Homo sapiens: one gene and its partner. The protein of the gene in region 2 purifies or fractionates together with the protein of the main gene of each other region. This does not show direct contact. Each region holds a gene or a part of one and is shown on either strand. Other genes may lie near its edges. The genes, in order: JPH1 and ZNF543.

Region 1 (3,821 bases), on a different chromosome or scaffold from region 2:
CCAGAATCCAAAACATTGTGGGCACCGACACGATGCTACAAGTGGAAAATTCCACATGACCGATGGTCACAGTCAAAATGCAGTCAAAACTTTGTTCCATGTGCAAAATTATTAAAAATATACTATAAAATTACCTCCAGGCTATGTGTATAAGGTATCTATGAAACATAAATGAATTTCGTGTTTCAACTTGGGTTCCCAGCTCAAGAGATCTCACTGTGTACATGCAAATACAGAAAAATATCAACAAATCTGAAATCTGAAACACTTCTGGTCCCAAGCACTTCAGATGAAGGATCCTCAACCGCAGGCGCCCTTGCTTGTTTTGTATAATAGTACTGCTGGGATTCAGGAAGCACACATCTTTATGTTGAAAGGAAAAGGAAATAAAAGCAAGCCAAAGCCAGTGCTCCTGCCTCACCCATCAAAGGAGCACTGTTTTACCTGGTTGGTAGAAATCAGGTGACAGCTCCCTGGCCACAGCTCTCGCGATGTCGCACTCCTGGCGAGCGGCCAGCGCGGCCTGGTCGGCGGCATCGGCCTTCGCTCTGGCATGTGCAGTCCTACACGGGGCACAAAAGGACGAGTCAGCATAGGTGACCCCTTGTTACTTACACAGGGACAAGCAAATTGTAATCTGGGAAAAGAAATGTTAATTATGATTATGGCCCGACACCCACAAGAGCAAAAATTTTAGAGTCCTATTGCCGTGAAATTTCAATGAAGATGACATAGATGAAACTAAACTACCCATGAATTGCCTTAGCCCTTCTCTCAAGGGAAATGAAAAGTAAGAGCAAGGTCTGTGTAGCTTGATGCTAAGTGTGGTTTTCAAAACTTACTGGATCAAATCTCCTGTTGACTTTGGTTGGCATTCCTCCCCCCCACCTAAAATTATGGAAAGTAGAATTAGAACATATAAATTAATAGTGTTTATCAAATTCATTTCTACGGTACAATCAATGTAAGAATTTGACTAAGAAAGATCTGCCCACTGGCATGCTGGTGAAGTAGCTCTTTGAAGAAAAAAATTAGTGAAATGGGGATTGGTAGTGTTTATTCATATCCATGTGTAAATGTTCTCACCGTGGCCAATTTCAGGCTACCAGCATAATGCCGTTGGATGTGCAGTGGGGAGATGTGCACTATTGGTGCTCACCAGCAGGAGCAAACCACAAGGCCCGCTCTAAGAACATGCTCAGAAGGGTTCCTGAGGAGCCCATTTAGCTGACTTTTAGGCATGTTTCTTGTATGAACCAAAAAGGAGACAGCGAGGCAGAACTGGCAAGGATGAAATGGATCTTTCAGTCTTCCATCGCCTCCCTGGCCTGTCCTCACTCATGGAAACCTCTCATCTTTCTGGAGGACTAGGGTTATGCGGAAAGTGGCAGGAAAAAGAATAGGGCTTCTTATGGCTGCACCAGGGAATGATGTCTACTGGCCCCAGAGAGGGTTGGAGGGAAGAAAAAAACTCTGGTTTATCTGCTCTGCAAAGGGAAAGGCCTTGTCCCGTTAGTCTTTAGATGTTTATGGGTACCTATTTCTTATGACTTTGTAAATTTTCTATTATATTTTATTAGCACTAGGCAGGGCTATAAATAACTAGCAGTGAAAACTTAATGGAAGTCTGAAAAAGGTGCTTACACTTATGTTGGAGACAGCAGGAGAGAGGAGGAGTTGGGAAAAGGCATGGGCTTTGGATGCTCTTCAGGGAGAACACACGGGCAGCAGCTGGAGGAGGCTGGCAGGCGGAGCTCCTGGGACCAAAACACGGAGGCACCGGGCCTGGCCTGAGACAAGGGGGTCTACTGGTAGGAGGCCCCCTTTTCACATTACTCTCTTCAATAACCTCCTCTTGTCCTGTGCTCTCACGGGACTCCTTTCACTTCTATTTAGGATCTAAGCAAGCCTGAAGGCTTGATGTATTAGAATGTAAGCTTTGTGAAGATTGGAATTTTTAATTTTTGGTCCTCTGTCATAATCCCAAAGTGCAGAACGCTACATTGGCACATACTATTTATTGAGGGACCACTTTATGAATAAAGGAATGAATGATGCTTCCTTAGGAAAAGCTGGGTAGTTCTTAAAACTGAATGGAATGACAAAACCATAGAGACAGTAAAAAGATTCAGAGTTGCTAAGAGTTCGGGGTGTAGTAGGGAAGAATGAATTGGTGGAAAGGAGGGCATATCTGGGGGAGTTTAATTATTCTGCATGATACTGTAGTGGGGGACATTACATATTTGTCAAAATCTATAGACTGTACAACACAAACAGTGAATGAAGCCTGATGTAAACTATGGACTTTAATACTAATATATTAATACCGGTTCATCAATTACACCAAACGCACCTCAAAATGCAAGATGTTAATAATAGGGGATATTGTGTGTGTGCATGAGGAGAGGAGGTGTATGGGAACTTTGCAGTTCCTGTTCAATTTTTCTGATAACTTAAAACTGCTCTAAAAAATAAAGTCATTAAAAATGAGTGGATCAACTTCGAATCATCAAAACTGCTATTTCTAAACCATGGAGGATGCTTTAGATTATTTGTGTATGGGGTATCAAGAAATATGAAATGGAAATAACATCAAGAGGGGAGGGACATATTCTTAAACAACTGGCTGTTGGAATAACCCCTCATGGGTGCCATTGCTGAGGTACGATGGGTAATGCCTTAGTCCTGTGTGTTGTGCCTGATAATCAACAGATGCCCTCCGCTAATGTTCTTTCAGTTTCTCAGAATCTAAACTTTTTTCCCCCAAATGATTTTCCATTTTGTCCGCTATTCTTAGCCAGAGCCTAATTATGTCTAGGTGTCATAATTAATGAAGCCATAAGAGTATAGCTATGCTGCTTTATAATACTATCTATTAGCCCTTTAATGATAAATTTACAAAACTCAAGTACAAGTAACTTATTCGGATTCAATCACGACACACCACCATACAGTCAAATAAAACAGCAGTAGTATATCTACCACTTTTTATAATATGCTAAACTAGAGAATAGACAAATACAGCTTAACCTTTCTGCAAATATATTTTGGAAGCACAGCATCAGTGAAGCCTGCTAGTACTTAACCCTTTACTTTTTTACTTGCTGTTTCCTATAAGACCACACAGCAAAGGAGGACCTTTCTATCCAGCCCAGCTCTGTGGCTCAGTGCTACTGTATAGCTGGCCAGATGAGTCAAGACCACATTCAAACCTGAATCCTGAAGTCTGCTCAAGAGCTTTTGGAACCGATGACAAGAAGGAAGAACAGAAACCCACTCTGAGTTTGCTGTTAACACCAGCCTGTACAGCTAAGGCCACTGGCATGTCTAGATTTTGCCCAGGAATAATCTGGACTTGTCTCTGGCTCATGTTAGTGAATTCATGTGATCACATCCCAGGCTCAGTTCCAGAGTGACACACGACCCCTGTAATCAGTCAATTGCGATTGTTCTTGCGTTGGGGGGTGGGATTCAGGTTAGGCAGTCTGGAGAGATAAGCTGAAACCACTCAAACTGGATGCCCTGATGCTATTGCTGGTCACAGGCAAAAAATGCATACACCAAAGGGGAATACGTGCCCCAAAAGCATTTCATTTATCAAAAGACTGTGACATTTTACAAATCTTCAGACCCTCAAGAATCTCCAAATACCATTATCACAAATACTTTCTCCCATCAAATGCAGTAAAAAGTAACTGAAAAGCGACTTCTTTAAATTAAGCATCAGCTGTTGACTTTCTTTTAGGGCTATATATTTTTAACAAATAAACCGAATTTTTAACTTGTGAAGAGTTGCACCTTATGGGTGAAGACACCACAGC
Region 2 (4,614 bases):
TGGCGTGAACCCGGGAGGCGGAGCTTGCAGTGAGCCGAGATCGTGCCACTGTACTCCAGCCTGGGTGACAGAGCGAGACTCGTCTCAAAAAAAAAAAAAAAAATTACAGCAGTGAAGAGAGAGAAGCCTCCTATGCAGAAAGCCACTTCACACAGAAATAAGGTTAGGACAATCCTAAGGGGACTGAGAGGCAAGACAGTAAGTGCTCTGAGACATCAGAGGAATGGGAAAGAATAATAACAAAAACAACACCAGCAACAACAACAAGAACAGCACCTGAGTCTTACCGATCCTCCCTGTGAGCCTGCCTCATGCTAATGGCTTTACATGCCATGGTAAAGTGACTAAAAGTCCCCAGCTCAGGAGTCAGACTCCTGAGGTTTAAAACCAAATTCCTGAAATCAACACAAGCCTGCTATGTGACCTTGGAAATCTCATTTCATTTATCTGAGCCCTGATGTCCAGGTCAACACAACAGGGTTTTCCACTTCACCAAGAATAGTCAAAAGATCTGAAGAAAAGCTGTAAAGGAAACACTGGGGCAAAGGGCCACAGCTCCTGAGTTCACCATCATCATCTCCATGTCACACTCAGAGACTTGAGGTCCAGGACCTCCACTAGTCTACCCAAAGTCACATCTCTTATCAGGAGAGACAGAATTTGAACCCAGGGCCCTATGGTCTATGTTCTAATCATGCAACCCGACACTCCTTCATTAGCAAAGTTAATGCACAGTTAATGAGGATGGGAAACATTGAAATACATCCATTTGAGCCACCCTGAAAATATTTTCAGGATTTTTTTTTTTTTTTTTGAGACAGGGTCTCAATATTTTGCCCAGGTTGGGCTTGAACTCATGATCCTCCTGCCTTAGCCTCCCAAGCTGGATATACAGACACATGCCACTGTGCTGGGGTTAGCCACTTGAAATATTTTCATGGACCTGGGCAGAGCAGCATAGTCATAATCACCTACCTCACAGAAGAGTCACCTGAGGTGGTGGCACCTGCCTCAAAAGTGGCAGGGCCTGGACCTGCATCTGCTGCCTCGGACACTTCTGGGCCTCACAGATGCCCATTCTCATAGGAAGAATCCACAACGAGCTATCACTACCTTTTCCTGTTTGAGTCCTACCAACAAGTATCCCTGAGGTCAGGATACTTCAGGAGCAAGGAACAAGAGTCACAGAGGACACAGCAGGTTGTAGCCATGAGAACATGGGCCCCTGACTGGCTATGTCTGTCCTGGCTAAGGAGGAAGGCACATCTAGCAAAAGACCACAAAATCTTGTGTCCCAAGACATGTGTCAGCTGGTATAGGAGAAAACCACTCAGGAAACCACTGTGGAAGCCACACGGGTCCCCTGCGGACTCCTTAAACAACCAATAAACCATTTTTTTTTAGTCCACACAGTTCCACCAGCATGAAATGCCATGACTCCTCATGTCCAAGACCACCTGCTAGAAGGAAGCCTGCTCAACTTGCAAAGTTTACTTTAGGTGTCACCCCCAGGCCTCCCTAACCATTGCGGGCAAAGAAGAGGGTAAAAACACAGGCTGTGATGGTAGACACACCAGTTGTTAGTTTCTGATACTTAAGAGCTACAGTGATGTAAGGCAGGTAATTGAACCTATGTGAGCCTCCAGCTGCTCTTGTGTAAAACAGTGAGGACAAGAGAACCTAATTCTAAGGAGTTCAGGATTAAAGGAGCTGAGGGTTAAATAATGCCTGCCAATCAGCCCACAGCAAGGACTCTTTATGATCAGCTGTCACTCTTTGCAATTATTTCGTTTCTCTTTGTTCACATAACATCCTAGACCAACTCAAACGGCAAGCTTCTTTAATATCGTCAGATTCTCTATACAAAAATGCCACACATTGCCAAAAATGGGCAAGTGCGTAAGGCGCCACTTTAGCCGGAATTGCCAAGAAAGCCACCTCCAAATAGGTGACATCTGGACAGAGGCCAGAAAGATATGAGAGGGAGGCCCTGCGAAGTTATAGGGGCAGTGTTCAAGGCAAAGGGAAGTGCAAAGAGAAAGCCTGGAAAAAGGAAGAAGACTGCACGGTCAGGTTGGTGGCTCTGAAGAGCAAAGGACAAGGGAAAAATGGAGAGACAAGGTCAGGGGTGGTTGGCCAGGTGGATGGGGTAGGGGCTGGCAGGCAACAGAGGAGGTTGGATTTAAGGGAAGTGTGATGAGATCCATGAAGGAAGCATCATTCATCCTTCTACCAAGGACTGAGCACCTGTCGGAGGCCAACACTATTGCAGGACTGCGGATAAAGGAAATGACAAGCTACGGCCACTTCTCTTAAATAAACGACGGCGACAAAGAAACATCCTGTGGCTGTCTTGGCTTCTGCCTGCCCACGAGGCCTCCAGAAGTAGCAGAGCAGCAGCAAGGCCAAAACCTCGTCCACTCACCTGCGCCGAGGCTGCCATCCTGAGACCCTGCAGCCCTAGCGGGGCCCGGGAATGCCGCGGCTCAGCCGACCCCCAGCCCTTCTCTGTCCTGGGCGGGGCGACCTCGGCTGACTTTCGCACTCGGAGCCTCAGTTTCCCCAGAGAAAAATGCGCACAAAGCGGGCGCAGCGTCGGGGCTGAGGAGACGGAGGGCGGCTGCGGAGGCCTAGGCCTCGGCAGGCGCCGGTGGAACACCCCGTTAGGGAAGAAGCGGGGCGTCAGGCTCCCGCCAAGATGCGGAGAAGGCGCGTAACAGCCTCATTACCCTCCCCTGCTCAGGCCGCTGGACGCGCCTACCCAGCGGTCCAGGCCCCACACTGTTCCAGGGCCAATCCTGCTCACGGAGATGACGTCACGCGACGAAGCGGAAGTCCCACCTCCGCCGCCCTGGCCCGCAGAAATCGCCCGTGTCCTGGCCCGTCATTGGCCTAGAGTCCGCGGCCGACGCAAGGGGTGGTGCCTTCTGAGTAAGGCAGTTTTTCCCTCACATCTACCGGGTGTGGGAACTCACCAAGCGCAGCCGACTCCATTTAAGTGCGCACAAGGACCCCCGCGTCGTCTTAGGGCCGCCGCTTTACTATGGGCACAAGTCGGAGGGTCGAAAGGTCCTTTCTAGCTTAGGAAAATTGAGGTCAGGAGGCGGGGATATTCGCCCCGATTGAGATCATGGGCTGGGCCCAGAGCTTCTGGCTCACTTCCCTTATTTTAGGGAGGTAGCTCATATATGTAATCTCAGTGCTTTGGGATGCCAACACAAAATAATTGCTGAGGTCAGGAGTTTGAGACCACCCTGGGCAATATAGTAAGATGTTATATCTACCAAAAAAAAAAAAAAGAGCAAGGCATGATGGTGTACACCTGTAGTCCTAGACACTGGGAGGCTGAAGCAAGAGGATTGCTTGAGCCCAGGAATTTGAGGTTATAATGAGATATGATGAGAGAAAACACACACACATAAACACACTGAGATGCCATCTTATACTGGTCAGAGTGGCTATTATTAAAAAGTAAAAAACCAACAGATGTTGGTATGGATGCAAGGAAAAGGGAACGCTTATATGCTATTGGTGGGAATGTAAATTAGTACAACCTCTATGGAAAACAGTATGGAGATTTATCAAAGAACTGAAAATAGAACTGCCATTTGATCTGGCAATTCCACTATTGGGTATTTACTTAAAGGAAAATAAACCACTATATCAAAAAGATGCCTGTACTTACATGCTTACTGTAGCACTATTCACAGTAGCAAAGTCATAGAATCAACCTAAGTGTCCATCGACAGATGATTGGATAAAGAAAATGCGATATATATATGTATATATATGTATGTATATGTATATATGTATATATATGTATGTATATGTATATATGTATGTATATGTATATATATGTATATATGTATGTATATGTATATATATGTATATATGTATGTATATGTATATATATGTGTATATATGTATGTATATGTATATATATGTATATATATGTATGTATATGTATATATATGTATGTATATGTATATATATGTATATATATGTATGTATATGTATATATATGTATATATATGTATGTATATGTATATATGTATATATGTATGTATATGTATATATATGTATATATATGTATGTATATGTATATATGTGTATATATATATACACTCCATGGAATACTACTCAGTCATTAAAAAAAATCATGGCTTTTGCAGCAATATGGCTGGAACTGGGGGGCCATTCTCTTAAGTGAAATAATTCAGAAACAAAGTCAAATACTGCATGTTATCACTTATAAGTGGTAGCTAAATGATGTATACATATGGAAATAGTGGAATAATAGACACTGGAGATTCAAAAAGGTGGGAGGCATTGCCGGGGACCCCTCACACCATGGTGCTTCACTCACCTACACCACAGCCATGCCACCCCATTGGCACACACTTGCAGGTAGCCCCCCTCTACTGCCCAAGTGGTGCACACTTGCCTGTGGCCTCCCCATCCCCCAGCCACAGTGCACTCTCTGCAGTCCCCACAATGCTCTGCTGGAGCACTTTTGCCAGCAGACTGAGAACACCTCAGCCCCTCTAGCACAGCAGGTGCTTCACCCCAAGCAGCCAGAGAACAAAGCCAAGGGCTTAATCCCCTCTACCCAGG

What was found.
Region 1: the proteins of ZNF543 (region 2) and JPH1 purify together in Homo sapiens (affinity purification with mass spectrometry; one large-scale study listed by BioGRID and IntAct). This does not show direct contact.

The regions. Positions count from the first base shown.
Region 1 is NC_000008.11:74,258,941-74,262,761, forward strand, and holds part of JPH1 (junctophilin-1), read right to left. Parts: intron 564-3,821; coding exon 445-563; intron 1-444. UniProt on the Homo sapiens protein: Junctophilins contribute to the formation of junctional membrane complexes (JMCs) which link the plasma membrane with the endoplasmic or sarcoplasmic reticulum in excitable cells.
Region 2 is NC_000019.10:57,318,683-57,323,296, reverse strand, and holds the start of ZNF543 (zinc finger protein 543), read right to left. Parts: upstream 2,826-4,614; 5' UTR 2,444-2,825; coding exon 2,426-2,443; intron 1-2,425. UniProt on the Homo sapiens protein: May be involved in transcriptional regulation.